Linked DNA regions of Homo sapiens: region 2 is linked to region 1. Evidence: fine-mapped expression QTL. A gene starts in region 1. The other region holds a variant in brackets. All regions are shown on one strand. Distances are between the middles of the regions. Region 1 holds the start of TXNDC16 (thioredoxin domain containing 16). Region 2 overlaps TXNDC16 (thioredoxin domain containing 16).

What was found. PIP is the estimated chance that this variant, and not a neighbour inherited with it, causes the effect.
Region 2: its variant is the best candidate, but not a certain one, in a credible set for the expression of TXNDC16 in whole blood (TOPMed, PIP 0.52).

Annotation. Positions count from the first base shown.
Region 1 is chr14:52,546,009-52,558,554 of GRCh38, reverse strand. It overlaps TXNDC16 (thioredoxin domain containing 16), which reads left to right and starts at 6,050. Exons shown (of 21, transcript NM_020784.3): 1 at 6,050-6,239. GPR137C (G protein-coupled receptor 137C) reads right to left here and starts at 5,719. Exons shown (of 7, transcript NM_001099652.2): 1 at 4,964-5,719. The coding sequence starts at 5,407. RefSeq lists silencers at 5,250-5,449, 5,460-5,529.
Region 2 is chr14:52,434,277-52,446,822 of GRCh38, reverse strand. TXNDC16 (thioredoxin domain containing 16) reads left to right here. Exons shown (of 21, transcript NM_020784.3): 19 at 6,099-6,259; 20 at 7,429-7,619. Among named protein-coding and RNA genes, the nearest start is that of TXNDC16, 110 kb to the left of the region's middle. The variant G/A (reference allele first, on the strand shown) is at 6,188.

The sequences.
Region 1 (12,546 bases):
TTACAGCTCCTTGAGGTTAGTATCAAGCAAGGATAACTTTATGTTTTCAAGTTAGATCTCCTGAAACCCCCCAGTCTGCTCCTCTCAATCACAGAACTGATGTGAATTTAGGCTTCAAACTTGTGCAAGAATGAGCTTATTTTGCATTCCCAGGGAAGACTTATTTACCAATTTGTACCCCCTATCTAGCTCTGAGGACCTGCTTATTTTCCTAGCTGATCCACTGAAGGTGTACACTTAAAGGATTCTGGCATTATGCTGGAGGGGATGAAGTCTTTTATAAGACCTCACTGCAAGGCACAGCCTGCAACGACACCTCCCTACACCTTCAACACACAAAATTAAAATCTGGGCAGTAGGCTAACAGGAGGCAGCTGAAAACCACTCCTGCCCTACCCCCAAGACACACATTTGTGTGATATTTTATCATTCTGCATTTTTTTTTTTTTTTGGTAGTTTCTGGCCTTTTCTTGCCAGCCCAATTATGCACTGAAAAAGACTGACTACTCTCTGCAGCATTTCTCTGAATCTCTGGTAGGCCAGATGACCTGGCTTCTACTTCTTTAAACCAAGAGTCATATGCAGTGGATGAAAGGTGAAGAAAGAGTTTGCTAGACAGTGGAAAAGGTTTGAAACCATGTGAAAAACGGGAAAGCAAGTTAGAAAAGCACTATTAAAGAAGTGATGTATCCAGGAAAGTTCATGGTATAGAAACAAATTACTTGATAAGACTTCATAGCACCTGAGCTATACAATAGTATCACAACTGATACATATTAGCCATTTAATTTTGGACAAATCACATCTCTTTCTATTTCATGGGGGTTGTGAAGACAAATGTTACAAAGTGCTTTGAAAATACCAATTTCATAAAATATAAGGCATTATAATCATGTCTTTTGTTACAGGTATGTATCTGAAACTTCGGCTTCACAGATGATTTCAGGAGAAATAAGATCAAGATAGTGAAAAAATTTAGTAGATTCAGACAAAAACAGTTTATAGTCAGTTATGGATAAAAGTCAAACATTGAACTAAACCAGTATTTCTGGTAAACAGTAACTGACTCAGGATATGAGACTCATCTTACAGACTTTTCTATTTTGTAGAATTTGTTGAAACTAAATTAGCAAAGCCTTAATTAGTATGGGCCATTTGCCATGATATAAAAAGTTTCATTAAACAAAACTCTATATTGTATGAAATCTTTTAGGCAGAAAATAGATTCCAGACAATACATAATTTACCTCAAATGTTCATCAAAATAAAGTTAACCCCCATATTTTAGATAACTATTTTCTAAATTTTGACCTTTTTATAAAGTGTCATTCAATAATATAATCATCATTGTTCTAGTTGCTGGAGATAAAAATATGTAAAATATTCCTTCTTATCCTCAAGGAATTTCTATTTTAGGTGGTAGAAATGTGATTTCAACTTTTGTGGGAAATCAAAGAACAGAACAAAATCAAATGAACCTGTAAGTTGACTTGCATGTTATTTGAAGTATTACCAATATAAGAATATATCTACTGGTAGGGACAATAATAGCATCCATAAATGTAAGAGTTAAGATTTTGAATTTAATTTTCCTATCTGTTTTGGCATTGTAATTAAGTCACTGTACTTTATCCTGATTAAGCAACTGGCACTCCTAAGACCAAACTGAAAGTAAGAACTTCAATATGTTGAAGATGAACTCATTGATTTTGGCATGCATCACAACACTCCAAGATGGTATACCATCAACTCTCATTAAAAAAAAAAATTTAGATTCAGGAGGTTCATGTGCAGGTTTCTTACATGGATATATTGTGTGATGCTGTCAATTCTCCTTTTAAGTCCTTCAATATGTTCTAATGGTAGATAGAATCAGTTTTATCAGATAGTCTGTTTCAAATATTGAAGTCTTCTCCGGTAAAACTCCAGGAGTGTGAACCCTTCTCTGGAAAAGCTCTTGTCCTACTGATCCTGCCAGAAGTTCAAAATGTGTTTTTAGATTAGTGTACAAGGTGGCTTTTCTTTTTTTTTTCCCCCTCTCTCTCAACTATAGGCTTCCAGGAGGTTAAGTATGAGACACTGAGAAGCTTAACTGTTTAAGAAAGGGCTACTTTCCCTCATCTCAATTCCATTCAAGTGTAGACACCAAGAAAAAAAAAAAAAGAAAAAAGGGGTTGAGGCATTTCTTAACTTTTCAAAAACATGAGTTTTAGAATATCCACCAAAATGTATTCAAAGTAGTAGAGTTTGTTTTACTTTTTATACTGATCCACGATTCTTTATAACTAAGTCCTTAAAGCTACTCTTAGTGAGAATCAGAAAAAAACAAATGCTTTAAACAAGTGAAAAGTAATATGGAATTGGTATTTAATACGGCATACAGCAAAGACAGAGTGAGTTGGTAATCAAGACACACGACTATTCAAAAAAGTTATAGGGGCTTTTGGTTAAAAAAATTAAACATCAGTTAAGTCTTATATTTATCACCACATAGGCTTTCCCTACCACTTTGCTATAATATGAAGAACTCACTAGGAAAAACTTCATTAATTCAGAATGATCAATGGGAAGTATACTTGCAGTTATCTGGAACTGACATAAAAATTTGAACTAAAATACTCTCTTAAATACAGGTTCCTGGAGATTTTCTCTAATGAAAAGAGAAATGATTTCTGGTTAAGATATCTCCTTTCAAACAGGCTTTCAAAAAATTGACAATTTGTTCTCTTAAGTACAACTGTGTCCTAAAATTGTTAATTTCATTATAAAAAGAAAGGATAGACAAACAACTCACACTCTTTTTAGCAGGCATTACAAAGGAAAAAAGCTTTATCCCAGCTTCTTTCCAAATTGTATTTTTCAGGTTAATAGAGTTTTATCGTTTTTAAAAAAGCATATTACACAAACATTTAACAGGAAGACTTTCAGATTTTAAATTCTTCCTCACTAGCTTGGAATATTAGCTCAAAGTCTGAAGACCCAATCTAGATACTCCGTGTATTCTATGCTATATAAGCATACCTTCAGAATTTTGAGCTTAAATATATCTCCTTTTTTGGATAGTGTTTACCCACTTTGTGCTTACCTGGGGGAGCTACTGACTGGGAGAGGGTAAAAAGGGAAACTTCTGGGACACGGAAAATGCTTTATATCTTAATCTGGGTGGTGGTAACATGGGTGTATACAGATATAAAATTTCATCTAGGTGTGCATTTAAGATTGTGGACTTTATTGTATATGTTATACCTCAAGAAGTAAAAAGAGTGTTTACCCACTTTATGAAATGCCTACCAACTATTTTACAGTGAATCATTCATATTATTTTGTAAATCAAAATATATAGGGAAAAAACAAGTCATCTGATGCCCCTGGCATAAAAATCGCTAGTCACTTTCAGGTAAACATCTGAACCTGGAGTAAAAGCTTCAGCGTTGAGAAGTCACTAACGCACTATCTGAAATGGTGGCAGGAAGATTACAATGTATCAGTTTAAGTATAAAGGGTAGAAGTGTTATAACAGCTTAAACGACAACTAGATTAGAACACCCTCAAATAAGTGACACGACTATGGCATCATTTGATTTGTGATAACCTATGCTTCTTATTTCCGCTTACTGGTTTGCGTTTTTGTCATTGTATTGTTTGGACTTTCAAAGGATGGAGAAGGAAAATAATAAAAGTTAAATTAGTTTTGTTGTTTTCAACTATTGTTTTTAGTGTGCTAAATAGCTGACATTATGACTGATTATAAAATTATGCATTCTACTTCCTATTAAAGGAGAAAAGAGTTGGTTTATGCAGGAAATATAAACACTTAATATACGTCATTTTTTTTTTTTTTACTTTTGCTTGGAACTACATTAATTCCATCACCTCCAAAAAAGCCTTTGAGAGGATTAGCTGCATAGGCCAATATTATTCTATATTAGTCTGTATTAAGCATATGATGTCACCTTGCTTCCTCCCCTCCTCAAGCTTTTCTTTTGGTGGGAAGGAGGACTTTTTTGGGGGAAAGTCTTAAAATATTATGGCTTAAATACCACAAGCTGACACACATGATTGACAACCTTACACTCCCAAACCTGTTTGAAATGGGTCAAATACCTAAGCGCTGCAGAACAATGCAATCCAACCAGCAATTCCCCATAAAAGAGAAAGGGGGTGTGATTAGGTTCCAGATATTAAGCAAGTTATTGCAAAAACAGTTTGGTGGTTTTGTTTCTGCAATAGGCACAGGTTAAGCTAGTATTTTTTTCTCTTAATTAGCTCCAAAAAAGACTATGCTAATAGGAGGTAGGATAAACCGCTAAAGCACGAAGCAACTGGGGCAAACATTAAGGGCTTTATGGAGGTCCTTATCCTGATCCTCAGCATTGGTTATTGATCATCAACCCTGCTGGGGAACTATCGAACGAAATTTATGTGAGGCTTATCGAGCCACAGGAAAGGAGATGCAGGAGGGAATATAAGCTTCTAATAAAAGAAACGCAGCAACAATAGCAGAGGAACAGCTCTGCCTGGTGACGTAATGGCTGGCAGCAGTCCAGCTTCAGCAGAGCTGCTGCTACCTCAGCATCCAACCTCCCTCAACACAGTCCGGCTTCGGCAGAGCCACCGGGGCTGCTACTTCTTGCGATGCCACTTTGTTGGTGCCACCAACGCCTTACCTCGGAGGGCCAGAACACCGAACAAAGGGTTCGTTCCGTTGCTGTTTTAAGTTGTCAGACACACACACTCACTCACTCACCCCCTAGCCCGAACCCCTCAGTAATCAAGCCAATCAGCCACTTAAGTTTAAGGCGAAAACACTGGCTCACACTCCAGGTGTGCCTCAGTTTCCCCAGGCTGGTTTCCAGTCCGCCTCTCGCTGCCCACCCCCCGCCCCCGCTGGTCCTCAGCGGGAGTTGATCCCGGCGGCCCCGCGCACCCGCCCGGGCCCCGCATGCCGGCCCTCCCGCCTTACCTCCGCCAGGTAGAGGTTGAGGAGACAGAGCGTGGAGAACTGGAGACAGGAGGGGAAGCAGTAGAGCAGCCAGTGGGGGAAGAAGTGCAGGTGAGCGGGCGGCCGGAGCAAGGGCAGGGAGCCGCTGAGCGAGAAGGCGGCGGAGAAGAGGGTGGTCCTGAGCGCTGCCCACAGGAGACAGAGGAAGAGGCAGAGGCTCTGGTAACTCAGCCGCCGCTCGCGGTACAGGAGCAGCCGCCACAGCTGCAGGTAGGCAAAGGCGAACAGCGCGGCGTAGAGCAGGGCGTGCAGGACGCTCAGCGCCAACTGCACGGAGCCCGGCACCGCGGCGCCTGAGGCTGCAGCGACGGCGCCTCCGCCTCCGCTGCCCCCGCCGGGCGTGGAGGGCTCGCGGCCGGCTGCGGGGGCGGCAGCGGCCGCCGGACCCGGCACGGACACCCTCATGAGGGGGCTGGGGGCCGGGCGAGCGAGCGCGGGAAGGAAGGGGCTGGACTCGGAGCCGCCGTCGAAGGGGAGAAGGACTGCCCCCTTACCCCCCACCCACCCCAGCCTCTAACCCCAGGAAGCGCCGTGACGGGACCCGGAGTCCAGCGCAAAGCAGCCGCGGCTCCCCCGGACCCCGCCTCCTCTTTCCCCCCACCCCCCGGGGGTCTCGGCTCCTCCTGCTGCGGCTCGGCTCCGTAGCTGCAAAAAACAACTCTCGGCTGGAGACAATCAGCTGAGAAACCCGAGCATTTGAGGCGCTCGCTCCGCACTGTGGGCTCGCGCCGATTGGCCCAGGCAGGCACGCCCCCTGAGCGCCGCGCTCGGAAGGCCACGGGCCGCAGGACCCGTCGCTCGAGGGCCCCGAGATCTGATTGGGCGCGTAATTTCCCTACTTTCTCCCGCCCCTGTACTTCCCACCCACGCTGCTGATTGGCCCTGCTACTGCACCGCCCGTTCGCGCCGGCGGGAGGACTCTGTAATCGTCTGTCACTCTCGCTCCGCCCACCACGTTTCCCATTGGTTAGAGAGTGCCTCGCGTAGGGAGCACGAGGAGAAGGAGGAGCTTCGCAGGTTGTTTTTTCCCAGGAGGCCGACTCCGCCGAGTCGGTGGCGGCTGCAGGCTGGGAGGGAGAAGTGCTACGCCTTTGCAGGTTGGCGAAGTGGTTCCAGGCTACCCGGCTAGTCTGGCACGGCCCCGTCTTCTGCCTCCTCCTCCGTCGCGTGGCGGCGGGAACTGTTGGCCGCGCGGCCTCGGGAACGGCCCAGGTCCCCGCCCGCAGGTCCCGGGCAGGTAGGTGACAGCGCTGGCCCTTCAGGCTGTGGGCTCTGCCTGCAGACCCGGGGATTCAGACGAAGCAGCTTTCTGTAGCCAGGGCTGCACTGCACAGCTCCGGAGTCTGACTTAAGACACCCGTCTCTGGGGCACCGAAGGGCCTCACCTGGAGCCTCCTGAGGGCATTTTGCTTTCTCTTTTCGCTGCATGAACGGCGGGAAACACCGGAGCCCTTTGTGGGTCGAGGGGATGGAAAGGGGCGACGGGGAGAATCGGAGCTCTTAAGTGAAAGACCCTTTCCTCCCAAGGCCAAGGGAAATGTCTCTTAAGGAAGAGTAGTAGTAGTATCAGATGGATGTTGAAGCGATCTGTGAGCAGGGGGAAGCTGGTTCTTTCAAACGTAGAATTTGGGAAGATGCTCTGGGCTTAAGTTTTGGGAAAAAGGCAGAAACAGACTTGTAAGTATGATGATTGCCTGGAGAGGAAGTAGAATATTCTGTACTGTTTAAATTCCACATGTATCGAAGCCTTGGACCTGTGTATGGTAGATGGTGGCGCTATTCCTGGGCCTGAGAGAGAAAATACATGCTGTGTTACTGCTGTGAAGAACCGAGGAATAATCAGATCGACTAACGTATATTGGGCCGGCACATAGTTGTTGACTTTTTTTTTTCCTATTTGGAAATAAGATTAGCAAGTAGTGCAAAATTAAAAGGAAATAATTTGTTTTCTTTAGAATACACAGCACATTACGAATTCAGTATCCTTGTGAAAGACATTGCTACGTTTATTGGAGCAACAAAGACCCAGCTTTTCTTACCTCACCATCCTTTGTCCTATGCTTTTTTTTTTTTTTTTCCTTTTTTTCATGCAGGGTCTCGCTCTGTCGCCCAGGCTGTAGTGACAGTTCACTACAAACCTCCACCTCCTGGGCACAAGCAGTCCTCCCACCTCAGCCTCCCAAGTAGCTGGGACTACAGGCACTGGAGCCACCATGCCCGGCTGATTTTTTTTTTTTTTTTGGTAGAGACGAGGTTTCACTATATTGTCCAGGCTGGCCTTTGTCATATGCTTTGCCCAAGAAGAGTGTTGCTGTCTTTTTTCCTAGCTAAGTATTCCACAGGGAACTTTAAAGTCTATTTTGTAGATTCTGGGACAGTCGTTTGTCCAGGTACCAGATGCTAGTGTGGTTTGAGTTCTTTATAGGTATGCTGACAAACTGTGGTAGATGTACAGGCCTAGCACTGTTACCTAGACATCCCTCAGATGAAACGTTCAGCTGAGCAGGTAGAGAGTGCAGTGTATGAGAGGGTACGGCTTGCTCTAAGAAGTTAACAGGCCTAATCCAACATCTATGCTTTGGAGAAGGATTTTATGTTTATTGGAACCTAAGAAGTTCATCTCATGTATTTTTAGAGAATGTGGTCAGGGCGGTACACAATTCTCTTCAAATAGGAGACAGGATGCTCATGACAGCAGTGATGTAATTGATTGCAGTAATGTGCTTAAGTATTTAAATTGAGCATAAAATCAGAGTTGTGTGATTTTAGGCACTTGTCAAAATCAAGGGCGCCACATATTCTCTGCCATGGCCTATTTGCATCTTCCATAATCATTGAGGTGCACATTTCAAGTCATCAATAGACTTTAAAAGGTTTTTCTTTTTCTCCTCTATTCTCTGCTCAAAGTGATAGTAAACATCTGGATAGTACCCATACTAATTTTAGGTCTTGGCCTGTGAGGCTTACCTGCCACCTGCCATGTGTCAGTAAGAGCAAGTCTGGATAGCTGCCTCCTTTCTCTTTTTTGGGGGATGGGAGTGTGTGTTTAGAGGTGGGCGGTGAGGGTGCAGGTAGAGGATTTTCCTCCCAACTGCTTTGAAAAGGCTCTAAAGGGGAGAGATGTTGACTCCTTTTATTGCCTCCTTGGGTCTGAAATGATAAACTGTGTTGAGATCTGATCAACATTTTATTTGAGGCTGGTTCAGTGAGCAGGTTCTGTTCTCCAGTAGCAGCATTAAACTGTAAGTAAGCTGACTTCAGACAGAATGTTCTTATGGGAACTTTGTAAGCGTTATATACTCCATTTGTTGCAAAATATGAAGTGTGTCTTTTTCCTGAGTATGATGGCCACAGATGTTGCTACAATTTATTTAATAGTTACAGTTGTTAATTTCCTTCTTTTCTGAGAGGAAAAGCCATTAATTTTATGGTTAATCATAAGGGAATATTAGGCCTATAAAGGGGGAACTAACCAAGGGTTTCCTAGAAAAGCTTGGTGTCAGCTATTCTAAAATTTAAATGTGTCCAAATGCATAAAGATTTAATATTGTTGTTCTGAGAGGACAGATGACCCTAGCACAGTAGTCTTTCAAACATTTAAAAGCAGAACTGTTTGGGTCGGGCATGGTGGCTCACGCCTGTAATCCCAGCACTTTGGGAAGCCAAGGTGGGCAGATCACGAGGTCAGGAGATCAAGACCATCTTGGCTAACACAGTGAAACCCCGTCTCTACTAAAAATACAAAACATTAGCCAGGTGTGGTGGCGGGCGCCTGTAGTCCTAGCTACTTGGGAGGCTGAGACAGGAGAATGGCATGAACCGGGGAGGCAGAACTTGCAGTCAGTGGAGATTGCACCACTGCATTCCAGCCTGGGTGACAGAGACTCTGTTCAGACTCTGTCTCAAAAAAAAAAAAAAAAAAATCAGAACTGTTTGTCAATTACTATTGCATACAGTACCCTATACCAAAATGGGATTAGTGGAGCTAACGAGGGCTACCAGCTGTTCTACCTGCCTAAGGAACACAAAGGCAAATCCTCATACTGTCTCCTTACAAGAAGACTAGCGTTTTCTCTTGAAGTACTTCCTCCTTGATGTCTTTTGGAGCTTAATATTCAGTTGCTGAACAAAACACACTTTTGTCGCCTTTAACATTTTATGTGCACGCTTTAGCCCTTTTTCTACTATTGTCTCACGGAGCCATTCTTACAGTGCTGTTACCCTCTTGTATTAGTCTTTAGTTACATGTCACTCATTCTTTCTATTATTTAAATGAGCTGTGCAAACACACTTCTTCAGAGTTTAGGGATGAGACAAAAGTTACATCTTATATGTCAACTCTGATCCATGCCAGCAGGACCATTATACTGAAGAATTGAGGGCCTCTCGCAGCCCAAAGGATCAAAGTCTACATGTAGTTGGGAGGTGTATCTGTAGTATTGGCAAACATGCTATGGAAAACATTTACCTATTACTTTTCCCGTCTTTTAGTATTGGCATCTTTTGTGGTAATAGTCAATTGCATTTTAAAGAGTCATCTTATGTTCAAGTCATAATCCCTTTACCCGTTACTAAGACCAGGTGTACTAATAGTGCTAGACTGGGTTATACTGTGGAAACAACCCGGAAACATTAGAAGTTTAAAATAATGGTTTATTTTATTTTTTTCTGAGACGGAGTTTTGCTCTTGTTGCCCAGGCTGGAGTGCAATGGTGTGATCTCGGCTCACTGCAACCTCTGCCTCTTGGGTTAAAGTGATTCTCCTGCCTCAGCCTCCTGAGTAGCTGGGATTACAGGTACCTGCCACTATGCCCAGCTAATTTTTTGTATTTTTGGTAGAGACAGGTTTCATCATGTTGGCCAGGCTGGTCTCGAACTCCTGACCTCAGGTGATCCACCCGTCTCGGCCTCCCAAAGTGCTGGGATTACAGGTGTGAGCCACCGTGCCTGGCCTAATAGTGTTGGAGGCAGAAAGAATGAGGGTTGTGACCAACTCGGTATACCACTGGAGGCTATATGAGCAAACAGCAAACTGTTCTCATGAAGGCAGGTTGTTGGCGAATTGACAAACTGCGTCTGCCTCCCAGAAGGAATGCTAAGGCCAGTCACACCCCAGGCGCAGTGTTTCTTGTGATTATCTACAGGAACATCTGAAGCCTGTTAGCAATCATGTGAACCTGTGATAAATCAAGCAGCTGACCAACCATTACCTGCTCCTCCCTGCTCTTGCTACCCAATAAATATGAAGGGTTGTGGAAGCTCAAGGCCCTTGCTCACTAGAAGCAAGGAGCCCCCGACCCCTTCTTTAAAACAGATTATTTTGTCTTTGTTTTCATTTCTACATTCGTTCTGCCTTCGTTCAGTCCCATAGTAACCGTCACATAATAGTTTAGTTTACACTGGATCAGTTGGGAGCTTTCCCCTATGGTGTTCTCTTTCTGGGACTTGGGCTGACAGACAAGGCCTAATTTTGAGTGTAATCAGTCATCATGGCAGAGGGAAAGTGTGTTGTGGTTCATTGCACATGTATACTGACTCTTAAAAGCTTCCAGAAGTACATGTCACCTTGCACATTTCATTGGCCAAGTCATGGCCATACCTAACTCAAGGAAGTGAGATGTATAATTTTAACGTGCAGAGAACTAGAAACATTTGAACAGTCTCTCGTCAACAAATGCTTTCCTTTGTATATGTAGTTCTTCCTTGGCTTTTCCTGGTGGAGGTAATTCAAAATTACCATCTTCACTATGTGAAGCCTAAAGTTGAGGATCTCTGAGTAATGCCCAGCAGTGGTCATCTCTTTACTGGTCTAGATAGAAGTTATCTGTCTGCCACCCCCTGTTGAACACATAAGGCAGTGCTGGGAGAGATAACTGTAAGTATTCCTGTTTGGAGAGAGGAAGAATGGAAAACACACACCAGACTCTAGATTGTAGCAATCTACGGTTGAAATCTCTCTAGGCAGTTGTTGCTAGGGCTCTAGTTCTGTTCCCTGAGTTCTCTAGGCCAGTTGAAACAACAACAACACTCCTAACACAATAGAAATGAATTACAGGAAAAGTGAAATAAAGAACATCAATTTACAAGCCCAATTTTAAAATTATTATTAGATTCAACAAATATAAAATTACTGTGTGAAATTGCTATAAAATGTTCTAAACATTTACATTCCATTTCTGTATTTATGTCATTATTTTAGACAAGTAACAAATACTTTTTACTCTGCACATGCCCTACAGCATAGTTCTCCGTGGTCCTTGGCTTTGCCCTGTGTGAGGTTCTTCCATTTTTGTTACTCTTGGCCACATCTGAAATTGGCTTTGGAGCATATGGCCTCTGACCTCTTTCTGTGGCTGAGCAGTTTTGTCAGTTTGCTTTGTGACCATGCACGGGTGGGGGCCTAAGGATTGTTTTAAGTTTTGAACATCTAGTCTTTTGGATGGCAGTTCTTCTCTGGGTATTTTTCTTTTAATACCTTGTTAAACACCACCAACAGCAACCATCACACAGTACTAATCTATCTTCCAGCCTCTTCTTTTAGAGCTATAAATAAGTTCATTAGCCACGGGAACATAGGTACACATTCATTATAAGTTAATCAGGTACATGTCACCTCCAAATTATTGTAGTGACAGTTTTATCAAACTTATTAATGTGGGTCACTTGCTTAGCTCCAGTCTCTGATAAATGTTTCCTTGAGCAGGCCCAGAACAGTTTCTATGCTGCTTGGCCCCAGCCAGTGTTTTGGAGTTTTCGTTAAGGTGGCATCTCACTTCTAGTTTATATGCAGCTTAAGAGAAAATAGTTTATGCTGCTATAATAACCCCTGCCATCTCAGTGACTTAAAACAACAAGGTTTATTTCTTCCTATGTCACATGCTTATTACACATTAGCTGGGAGTTCTCTGTTATGCTCATGCTCACAGAATAGACAGCATTTGGGCATTTCTCTTGACTGCAGCAGAAGACTGTAAAGCCTGGCTTTATTAACACTAACTGCCGAAACTGTTGCCTGAAAGAGACAGATGCCACTTTTGCTCACATTTTATTGGCCACAGTAAGTCATCTGGTGGTCGTAACTAACTCCCCCAGAGGTGGAGGATGGAGGGAGCTTAAGTGTAATTAGTAACTGCAAGGAGAACTAGAACTATAGTAATGAACTATCACACCGAGGTAACAAGGCCGCATTTCTCTGAAGGTACTCATCACTTGGTTCTGATATCTAGATTTTTGTAGTATTAAGTTTTTGTTTGTTCGTTTGTTTGTTTGTTTTGTTTTTAGGCAGGGTCTTCCTCTTTCACCCAGGCTGGAGTGCAGTGGCATGATCATGGCTCACTGCAGCCTCAATCACGATCCTCCCGACTTAGCTTCCCTGGTAGCTGAGACTACAGGTGTGTGCCACCATGCATGGCAATTTTTTTTCTTACTTTTTATAGAGACAGGGTCTCTGTGTTGTCTAGGCTGCTCTTGAACTCCTAGGCTCAAGTGATCTTCCTGCCTCTGCCTCCCAGAGGGCTGGAATTGTAAGCGTGAGCCACCGTGGC
Region 2 (12,546 bases), 110 kb after region 1:
CCAGGGTGTATCTAGAAATGTCATCCAAGAGCTGGGACCTGGAAAGGGAGCTTCACAACTCTGACCAGGGCCCTGTCCTCCTGTGGCTGAGCTGGTATCCAAGATGCAAGACAAAGTCTTTCCCAGTCTTTCCTTTCTTCTCCTTAAGCAGAAGGAAGGGGTCTCTTTTGGAGCTACAAGCTGTGCAGCCTGGGATTAGGGGAGAGGTGGCATCAGCACTCCCCTAGCTGTCCTGGCTGGTATCTCAGTAGGTCATGTGTGCCTATAGTCTGCTGGCTCTGAGCCCAGTTCAGCCCTAGGACTCACCTAGGAGTTGCAGCCTTTGTTGCCTAGACTGCCTTTCAAGTTTATTTGGGCCCCAGCACACTCCAGCCTGAGGTGACAAGTCTTGCTGTAATTCAAGTTCTGACTTCTAGGATGGGCATTTCTGCTCTGGCTAGAGATGGTTTAAATACACCCACTGTGGGCGAGCATGCACTGAGTTCAGTCTGGTTTTGCCTGCTGTTAAAACAGGGCAGCACTGAGTTCAATGCAGAGTCTCACAATTGCTGTGCTCTCCCTCTCCCAAACACATAGATTCTCTCTTCATGCAGTGTGGCCACTGCCAGGGGATGGGAGAAGGGTATCATTGATGATTCAAGACTGTTTTTCCTACCTCTTCAGTGCCTCTTTGAGCGATATAAAGTTAAAACCAGGTACTGTGAGTACTCACCTGATTTTTGGTTCTTATGAAGGTGCTTTTTTGTGTAGATAGTTGTTAAATTGCAGTAGTCATTGCAGGGGAAGAGGGGATGACTGGTAGAGTACTCTAGTCTGCCATCTTGCTTCACTCTCCTATTTGTACAGTTTTAGAAAAAAATATTGTCTTATGAAAGGCTTTTTCTTATGTTTTACTTTTACAGTCATGCATCACTTAACGAGGATATCTTCTGAGAAATGCATCGATAGGCAGTTTTATCATACAAACTTTATATAGAGTGTACTTACAGAAATCTAGGTGGTATAGCCTACTACGTACCTACGCTGTAAGGTATAGCATATTGCTCCTAGGCTACAAACCTGTACAGCATGTTACTTTACTAAATACTGTAGGCTCTTGTAACAATGGTAAATATTTGTGAATCTAAACATAGAAAAGGTACAGTAAAAACATGGTATAATCTTATGGGACCACCATCTTACATGTACTCCATTGTTGACTGAAACATCATGCGATGCATGACTGTATAATAGTGGATTCAAGGGCACAACAAATGTAACCTGTGTTACCTGATTTTAGTTGTTTGCTTTCATATTAAACATAGCTAGAATTTATACTTTTCTACATTTCTGAAGTGACTCAAGGAGCATTTTTATTAGCTATAGATGCTAAATGAATATCCTGTTAGGTTTTTTGTCTTGATGATCTAAAGGACATTACATTTTGGGCTCAACTAAGGGACTGCAGTCTTTATTAAGTCTTTTTGTGTCTTGGTTCTGTCCTTTCCTCCTGTTAAAATTATAGGTTATAAATAATCAAATCATTGAATTGATATGTTCATGATGTATGTTTCTAAATTACTTATTAAAGTAACATTTATGTTATTAATGACATGTTATTAAGTAATTCCTTTAGCATATACATAGTGTAGTATTTTTGGAATTACTAGAAGCCTTTGTTTGGCTTTTTCAGGTAATACAGAAAGGATAAAGAAGAAAATTATAATCAACCATAACTTTTCTACCCAAGTTTACGTTAGGAAATACATTTCCCCAAACCTAAATTCTGTATGTATCTGTGTGCCTTTTTATATTAATGTATTTCCATCAAGTACTATAGATACACATTTTAATTTTTAACATCTGCATAATATTGTTTACTAATGTACCAAAATTTATTTAGCCCATTTCCTCTTGATGGTTGTTTAAGCTGTCTTTAGTTTTTGTTTTATTTATAATTCAGGGAACATCCTTTTAGGTAATCTTTGGGTGTATCTATGATTATGGATTTAGGTTAAATTTCTAGAATTTGAATTGGTTGTCCAAAGAGTAGGCCCACTTTTGAGGCTTCTGATAACTTTTGTATTTCCTGACAGAAGATTTGTATCATTTTACTCTTTTTATCTTGGTATATTTAGTGGATAAAAATTGGTCTCTAATTTTTTTAAAGATTATATTCATTAAACCTTAGAAACGTAGGAGAAACTTAGTATCAAAATCTGTTTACAGTAACAACAAATGTAATATGCATTGTGACAGTTTGTTTCCAATGTTTTTATTTGTGGTGTTCAACTTAATACTGAACAGCTATAATAAAGATTAAATAGGCTTTAGAGAGACTTTAGTGCCTTCATCTGGATGAGGAAGGAGAGTTGATGACCAGAGGGTGAAGATTTTTTATTATGGTATGAAGTTTTTATTTTAATGAACCTGATGACAAATTGGGCCAGATAAATAATGCTTAAATCTGAAATACACAATAATTAACTACATAAGCATTGATATATTTAAGACTGTTTCCTGTTAGGAAATAGGGTTTAGTATTTTTCTCAGATAAACTGAGTTCCTTTTTTATGCTTTTATTATTGACAAGTTTAGAACACCAGGACCCACACAGTTATAGTCTGTTATATACTCAGAGAGCCAAAGGTCACCTTCCAAGTACCACATTTGATGACCTCTTAACTGTGTTTCTCCTTAGTGTCTCAGTAGCAGTCAAAACTGTTGTCTATACCATTCCTCCTCAACATTCTCTTTTCTTCCGGCTTTTGTAATTCAGTCCTCTTTTGTCCATCTGACCATCCTCTGTCTCATTTATTCCCTAGAATTACATCTTCAACTCTTTTTTTTTCTTCTTTTGCTATGTCTTTTCTTTGGAAAATTTTATCCATACCCATAACTTCTACCATCACTACCAGCTGATGATTCCTAAATCCGAGTGTTTAATTTTAGAACTCAGTTTCCTTCTAAACTCACAAATCTCTTGGTCTTTCTCTTTTGACTAGACATAGGAAAGAGTAGGGTCCTTCCACTGGTCCTTCTTTTCACAAATTTATATTCTAGTTAGTCATCTTTTGAAAAACAGGCCTAACTGTGTCACCAATCTGATACAGAAATCTTCTCAGTATTCCCAGGAGCTAGAATACTTATGAAGGCATTACTCATCTGGTCTCACAGCCATATTTGCCTCTTGCATGCCTAACTCTGGCATCCTTCATTATCACTATTCCAAAATATTATGTATGCTTTAATAGCTCTCTGCCTATCTTCATGATGTTCCCTATGTCTGAAATCCCTGCTCAAGCACACACCTCAGTCTGTCAAGATCTTATTCTTTATCCAGGGTCCAGCTCAAATATCAATTCCTAAAATCATCCATGAGCTCCCCTACTGTATTAGTCAGGTTTCTCTAGACGGACAGAACTAATAGGATAGATATAATAAAAGGGAGTTTATTAAGTTTTAACTAATAAAAATCACACGGTCCCACAATAGGCCATCTGCAAGCTGAGGAGAAAGGAAAGCCAGTTCGAGTCCCAAAACTGAAGAACTTAAGAGTCTGATGTTCGAGGGCAGGAAGCATCCAGCACAGGAGAAGATGTAGGTTGGGAGACTAGGCCAGTCTAGTCTTTACACTTTTTTCTGTCTGCTTTATGTTTTTTTCTAGTTGTGCTGGCAGCTGATTAGATGGTGCCCACCCAGATTAAGGTGGGTCTGCCTTTTCCAGCCCACCGACTCAAATGTTAATCTTTGACAACACCCTCATAGACACATCCAGGATCAATACTTTACATCCCTCAATCCAATCAAGTTGACACTTAGTATTAACCATCACACCTACCTTGTGTTTTTAGCTTGTTTAATTTCGAACCAATAAGTTTTCTTATTGTCATACATTAAATTTTTTATTTATTATAGCAGTCTGTATACTTACCTGTCTTCTCTTCTAAAGTATGAACTCTTTGAAGGCAAGGAAAGGATCTTATTTCTTTATAGATTCAGCACCCAGCATAACATCTTGAACTTTGTCCTCAATAAATGTTTGAATTGAGCTGTGGTGACTCTGTCTCACCTAATGTTTCTGCTTGTTCAATAAAAGATCTGTCAATATTTAGGAGAGGGATCTAACTCAACTACAAGATTAAAGGATGAAAGCTAACACAAGAAGACAGCATAGGGGAATTTGGAGAAAAAGTGATCTAAGATTTAAGCCATGAAAGAGGAAGGTGTAAGAAGGAGATTTTGAGTGTGAAAGAGAGATAATTAGAAGAAAAATGAGAATGGGCAAATGCAAGCTGCTCTGAGAACTGAAAAGGGAAAGTTATATGCCAGAATTTGGCACTTCAGGATGAACTAGGACTATATTTAGAGGTGGGTGACACCATTAAAAACAAGTTCATCTGAATTTGTAGTGCGATCTAAAGAAAGGGGAAACTGGTGAGCAGAATGCCTGGATTCTACCATCACTCCTTCCCCCTGCTTAGCCGTGGTGACTTAAGCAAGTTAGTCTCTGTGTTGGCTTCCCCATATGTCAGCTGGGGGTTATCTATCTGATACAGGATGATATATCTAGCTCGCAGGTGTATCCAGAGGATGAAATAATGGACGTGGAACTGAAAATGGTAGAAGGTTTTATTATTCTATGTCATTGCTATTTTTAATCCTAAATATATTAGCATTGTTGTTGCACTTTCCAATTCTTGTTACTGACAGCGTAGACAAATTGTCTTCTACAAATACATTTTAAAATGGTTATTCTCTTTTATTTTTTTTCTTTCAATTCCCTCATTTCACAGATTTAAAAACTGGGGTACAGAGTGCTTTGCTCAAAGTTTTATTACTGTGACAATTCCATGAATCCAGAACCTGGGATTCTGACTTGTAATCAAGTGACTGTTTAAGTCTACCCCATTACAGAAAGGTGTGAAAGAGAGAATAGAAAGAGAGAGAGGATAGACAGTCATTACTGCTAATATTAATATAATAGAATTTTAGGCCCTTCCTTGAGTTGGAGGTGAGTGGAGAAAGGAAGTATTTCTAAGATAAAAAGAGTGCAGTGGCCAAGAGAAAGCTTCCTCTTTGTCCTCTGAAGGTTCCATGAAAATAACTGAAAAAAGGCAGATTAATAGGAGAAAGGCATACAAAATTTTATTTTAATGTGCATAGCATGGGCGAATTGCAGGAGAATGATTACCTCCTTATCTTGTTTTTGTTTTTGTTTTTTGGGTTTTTTTTTTTTGAGAGTCTCACTCTGTTGCTCAGGCTGAAGTGCTGTGGAACAATCTCGGCTCACTGCAACCTCCCTCTCCTGGGTTCAAGCGATTGTCTTGCCTCACCCTCCAGAGTAGCTGGGATTACAGGCGGGCACCACCATACCCAGCTAATTTTTGTACTTTTATTAGAGACAGGGTTTTGCCATGTTGGTGAGGCTGGTCTCGAACTCCTGACCTCAGGCGATCTGCCTGCGTCGGCCTCCCAAAGTGCTGGGATTACAGGCGTGAGCCATCACTCCCAGCCTCCTATCTTTTAATTAGTAATAAAAATGATAAAAGGATTAGATTTCTAATTTCATATTAAATTCTTTCAGTTATTTTAAACTCAAAAGAAACAAGATTGGTGTTTGGATTTGTTTTAGCATATTTTTGGTTATTTTAATTATGATTTTAACCATAATATTGGAAAAAGTAAAATTTTATATTTATTAAGTAATGATAGATGTTAAAGAAAATACTTTTTCAGCTTACAGTTTTCTTCAAAATTGTTATGTTAGAGGAAAAAATATAACAATTGTCATGTGTATATTGGTTAGTCTGGTCCAGACTTTAGCATAATAAATTATTAGAAGTGTTACATCTTGTAAAACAGGGGACTCCTTTAAATTAATTTATTCTCAAATTCTGTGTAGTTTTATTTTGAAAATAACTCATTCAGATGAGGTGGGATTGAATAAGACGATTGAGATTCATAGTTATTAATATAGTAAAATCTCTACTTAAGTGAAAATGTGTTTGAATTACATTTTACAAACTAAAATTGACTGAGTGATTTGAATGTCTTCTGTGGTATGCATTATCATCCCCAATGCATTTTTTATTGTTGTTATTCCTTTTCTTTGACAGCCGGAAATCACTGTGGAAAATCTTCCCAGTTATTTCAGACTTCAGAAACCATTATTGATTTTGTTCAGTGATGGCACTGTAAATCCTCA[G/A]TATAAAAAAGCAATATTGACACTGGTAAAGCAGAAATACTTGGATTCATTTACTCCATGCTGGTTAAATCTGTAAGTATGTGTTTATTTTTTAATATGTAAGAGGTAAAGAAAGTAATAATTATTACATTTTCATTAGGAAACGAAACTCTCTAACTCTTTGGAGTTAATTTTATGGAACCAAATATGTCACCATGATATTTTAGTAACAAAACTCCCCCAAACAAGGTCCAAGATGACCTTATTTTAGATTAAATTTTATTCTACAGTAAAATTTTAAAAGAAATAATTGTTCTACTTTTTAAAAGGAATTGATGCCCATTGAGAAAATTTGGCAAATACAGAATAGTAAACATTGTGATTTTTGGACTTTTCCTTCAGTTCCTTTTTCTGTACTTCTATATTTTTAAAGTTCAGACAGATTTCAGTGCATTCATCAGCAATATTTCCTAGTATGTTTTCTAGATGTATGGATTGTGTTACATTTAATGTCTGTGAACAAAATTCACAAATAATATACTGCCCCTTGTTCAGATTCATCAGATGAAAGACATATTTATTCTTTAAAATCATTTGAAAAATAACAGAAATGGGGCAGTGTACATTTTTGCTGTGAAGAGTTTAACAGTGCATTCTACTGCTTGAGGCAACATTTTCCCAGGCAATTATCATTACAGGTATCTAAGAGTAAAATAGTATTTTATAAACTGTAGAATGTGTTACATTAGGAAAACTAAGTATCTTTAACTTAGAGTTTCCTTGTATGAACATAATTATTTCTACTTCTTTAATTTGAAATTAATGCCTTTTCCTGAGAAAAGGCACAATTCTATGGAAAAGAAGTATTTATAAAAATAAGTATCTTGTTATCTTCTAGTTATGTAATCATTTAATTTTTGAGCTGATGTATGATCAGATACTTGGCCAAATGTTGGAAGGAAACTACTGGTTGCGTCAAGCCTAAATTGACAAGCCTTTGGGCTATGCCTGCTTTTCATTAAAATTGTCATTGGCTGCCGCTTTTCTCCCAAGTGAAACAAAGTGCCCCATGTTAAAAAGAAACTTTAAAAGAATCCGGTTACTAATAACATGTCGTAGACTTCTTGGTTTTTAGGACATCTTTTCATAAAGTGAACTTACTGGCATGATACTACTTAAAAGTTTAATGTTCTACGAATTACTATTTTCATTATTTTGTTGTAGAAAGAAATATTAATATGTTCAATTGTTCCCTTTTGCAGAAAGAATACTCCAGTGGGGAGAGGAATCTTGAGGGCATATTTTGATCCTCTGCCTCCCCTTCCTCTTCTTGTTTTGGTGAATCTGCATTCAGGTGGCCAAGTATTTGCATTTCCTTCAGACCAGGCTATAATTGAAGAAAACCTTGTATTGTGGCTGAAGAAATTAGAAGCAGGACTAGAAAATCATATCAGTAAGTTTTCTGTTTTGTTTAATACATGTAGTTCTGCATTTTGTTCCATAAATGTTAAACTCTAAATATAGCTAAAGAATGGTAGGATGAGTTATTAAAATGCTGGTAGCATCATCCATGTGGACAGTCTCTGACTGGGAGGCCAAAGGTGCAAGGCTTCAGTCAGTGATCGGCTCCCCTGTGAAGGCCTGTTTCTTGAATTTTAATTCATTGAGTCCATGTTACTTGTATAGATCACCAGTGTATTCAAACATATGATTTTGGTAATTTATGCCATTAAAAAAGTTGTTACAGTGGGAGCTTTGGCCTACCAAAGCATAAGTATTTCATCTATTTTTATAAAATTTAAAATTGTAGATTTCAGAAGATATTTCTTGTGCAGCTTTTTCCATGTGCATGCCAGCTTGTTTTCTTTTTATAACTGTAAGCAAATATGTGGTTTTATAGAAAATGAGGATATTTTACAAATAGTGCATTATTGTTATATAAAATTCTGGTTCTAAGTACAGGCATACCTCAGAGATATTGAGGGTTCAGTATGAGACCACCACAATAAAGCAAATATTGAAATAAAGCAAATCATACAAATTTTTTGGTTTCTAAGTATATATAAAAGTTATGTTTACACTATACTGAAGTCTATTAAATGTGTAATAGCATTATGTCTAAAAAATGTTTTTACCGTAGTTTTAAAATATTGCTAAAAAATGCCAACAATTATCTGAGCTTTCAAGGAATTGTAACCTTTTGGCTGATGAAGGAGGGTCTTGTCTCTGTGCTGATGGCTGCTAACTGACAGGTGGTAGTTGCTGAAGTGCTGAAGTTTGGGCTGTGGCAATTTCTTACAATAAGACAACAATGAAGTTTGCAGCATTGATTGACCTTTCTTTTCACAAAAGATTTCTCTGTAGTATATGATGCTGTTTGATAGCATTTTATTCACAGTAGAACTTCTTTCAAAATTGGAATCAATCCTTTGAATCGCTGCTGCTGCTTTATCAACTAAGTTTATGGAATATTCTAAATCCATTGCTGTCATTTCAACGATGTTCATAGCATTTTCACCAGTAGTTTCCAACTCAAGAAACCGCTTTCCTTGCTTATTCATGAGAAGCATCCGTTCAAGATTCATCATAAGATTGCAGCAATTTAGTTTCACCTTCAGGCACCACTTCTAATTCTAGTTCTCTTGTTATTTATACCCCATCTGCAGCTACTTTCTCCACTGAAGTCTTGAGCCCCACAAAGTGTACAAGGCTTCCTTTTCCTCTGCATCCTTGTCAGCATTTGTTATTGCCTTTGTTTGAGATAAAAGCCATTTTAACTGGGGTGAGGTGATATCTCATTGTAGGTTTGATTTGCTTTTCTCTGATGATCAGAGAAATATCTGTTTTCATAGACCTATTTTCCGTTTGAATGTCTTCTTTTCAGAAGTGTCTATTCAGATCTTTTGCCAATTTTTAAATCAGATTATTAGTTGTTTTTTTCCCCATAGTAGTTTGAGCTCCTTATATTCTCTGGCTATTAATCCCTTGTCAGACAGGTAGTTTGCTAATATTTTATTCCATTCTGTGGGTTATCTTTTTACATTGTTGATTGTTTATTGTTTCCTTTGCTGTGAAGAAGCTTTTTTTTAACTTGATGTGATCCCATTTGTCCATTTTTGCTTTGGTTGCTTGTGCTTATGGGGTATTTAGAAATCTTTGCCCAGTCCAATATCCTGGAGAGTTTCTATAATGTTTTTGTCTAATAATTTCTTTTAGTAATTTAAGTTCTTACATTTAAGTCTTTAATATCTTTTGAGTTAAGAGTGAGATAAGGTCCAGTTTGTTTATTTTGTATCCTGCAACTTTACTAAATTTGTTGATTAGTTCTAACAGGTGTTTTTGTGGAGTCTTTAGGCGTTTTCTGTATATAAGATCATGCTACCTGCAAACAGGAACAATTTAACTTCCTTTCTGATTTGGACAGAGCCAGAATTTTGAACCACAAGAAAATAGATCTTGGCCCAGAATCTATTATCCTGGCTTATAACATGCCATAATATCCACTTTTCTGAAAACATAGAAAAATTTATATTTGTAGTATGGATATATATATTAATTTATATTTGAGTCTTAACCATTTATACATAGTTGTGGCAACAATAGGCCTGTAGCTATAGTTTAAATAAGTAAACATGTAGCAACCTAGATTATTATAGTATATTGAACAAATAGTGTGAAATGTAACAAAAAGTCTCCTAGGTACTATATAAGGATTTTATTAGATACTAGATGGTCTATCCTAAAATAATATTTTGATACTGTTCCATGACAGAGTCCTGAAATAAGGTTTGTATGTGTGTGTATATATGTAAATATGTATGTATGTGTGTACGTATGTATATACACATACACTCTGGTATACAAATTCTCATTCAATATTATGTCAACTATCAGGTATAGTATGAATCTACCATTATGTATATTTGTATGTATTTCATCAGCTACTTTAATTTATTTTAGGGTCAATCATTACACCAAACCCATCCTTCCTAAGTGGTCTGCTTCATTTCTGTCAAGTTAAGCAGTTTTAACAAACATATTATGCTTAAATAAAATATGGATGGTATTTTTATTGAAATATAATATACCATAAAATTCACCCTTTTAGAGTGTACAATTCAGTACTTTTTCAGGCATTCTCAAGATCATGCAACTACTACCATTGTTGAATTCCAGAACATTTTCATCACCCCAAAAAGAAACCCCATACCCATTAGCGGTCACTCTCAATTTTCTCCTCTATCCACCCTTTGGCACCCACTCATCTATTTTATGGTTCTATGGATTTGCCTAATCTAGACATTTCATATAAATGGTATCATATAATATGTGGCTTCTTATGTCTGACTTCTTTCACTTATCATAAGGTTTTCAAGGATCAACCACGTTATAGCATGAACCAGTAGTTCATTCCTTTTTATGGATGAATAATATTCCACTGCAAGGATATGTCACATTTTGTTTATTCCTTAGTTGATGGACAGTTGGGTTGCCTTTACTTATGGCGATTATGAATAATGCTGCTATGAGCATACATGTATATGGTTTGGTGCCTGTCTTTATGCTAGTACTGCACTGTCTTGATTATTGTAGCTTTGTAGTAGATTTTAAAATTGGGAAATTTGATTACTCCTACTTTGTTTTTCATTTTCTTTTATTTCATTTTGTTATTTTTTTTGAGACAGGGTCTCACTCTGTCACCAAGGCTGGAGTGCAGGGGTGCGATCATCACACACTACAGCCCCGAACTCCTGGGCTCAAGGGATTCTCCTACCTCAGCCTTCCAAGTAGCTAGGACTACATGCATGCACCACCAAGCCTGGCTTCATTTTTTTGTTTTTGTCTTTGTTTTTGTTTTTGTAGAGACAGGGTCTCACTGTGTTGTCCAGGCTGGTCTTGAACTGTTGGCCTCAAGCAACCCTCCCTCCTCAGCCCCCCAAAGTGTTGGGATTACAGGCATGAGCCACTGCACCTGGCCCTATTCTTTGTTTTCAAGACAATTTTGGCTATTCTGGGTTCCTTTAGATGATATTTTTGTCTTAATTTTCTGAGGCAATTTATTGGTTTTAATATTTTCCTAGGAAACGGGACAGAATTAATTAATTAAATTCAATATTTTGTTTAAGTGGATCTGGAAGGAGACCTTTCTGTAGTTATCAGTCATCTTTGACTACTTCATTCTCACCACATGGTATAGGGATCTTTTCAGCTGTAGCTCTTAAACTCCTCAGAAAGTCTATGTTCACTTAACTGTCTGCATTGCTATTTTATAGAAGCAAATGAGTATTGTCATGTTGTAGCTGCAGTGACACAGAGTTCCCATGGACTGTAACTCAAGATTATGTGTAGCTAGGGCTAGAATGTTTCTCAAACAGAATTACTTAAAAAAAAAAAAAAAAAAAAGCAGACATGTTCAAAACATAGAAACCTGAGCTCCTGCCCTAGCTTCCTAGATTACTATGTGGCTCTAGGCAAGTCATTCTTGGTTTCCTCCTCTACAACTATAAAATGAGTTTAATAGTTTCCACTCTGAATACATCACATAGTTATTAAAAAATGAATGCAGAGGCACTTTGTAAAGTATAAACTCTAATGTATTATCATCACCTATGTAAAGATCCTTTCCTGCAAGGAACATCCCTGAGGGCTTTGATTCCTCAGCTCAAACCATTACCCAGAGGAAAGAATCAACGTTATACTTCTGAGTTTTCTGAGAGACTGGCGTGTCTTCTATTGCAATTTTGTTAACATCTTTGCCAGCTCATTCTTTACGGGTTTCCATCATTTCTATGCATCACTGCTCCTATTCTTAAATTAATCCTGTAGCCTCTGCAGCAGGAAAAAGAAAACTGAACAGTCTCTGTGTATTGGATTCTGCCTTCTGTGCTAGCAGGGCCTGCTCTCAGCATCTCTGTTAGATAGATCTTTGCCAACAGTGGTGTTCTGAGATGGGGTTGGGGTCGGATGAGTTGTAGGAACATTCTGGAAATAGCCTAACTCAGTAACATGGTGCCACTGGTGTCTGCCTCACCTTACTTATTGCATATCTTAATTTCTGTGAAACTGTGGCCACTGGCAATTCTTACTTGAGATTTACACTTAACTTTGGCCCAGTTCCCTGATATTTGTATGCTTTAGTGTTCTCGTCTATAAAATTGTAAAGATAAAATGAATAGTGCATGTGTATAGTAAAGGCTCAATAAATGTTAATTAGTATTATTTATTATCATTACTGATTTGATGAATAATGTATTTATTACCCATACATTATTACAGTTTTATTTGCAGTTGAAAACATTAAGATCTTTGTAGAGTTCCCTCAGCAAGTAATTAGCAGAATTGGGATGTTTCAGGCATTTTGTCATAGTCTCAGACCGCTA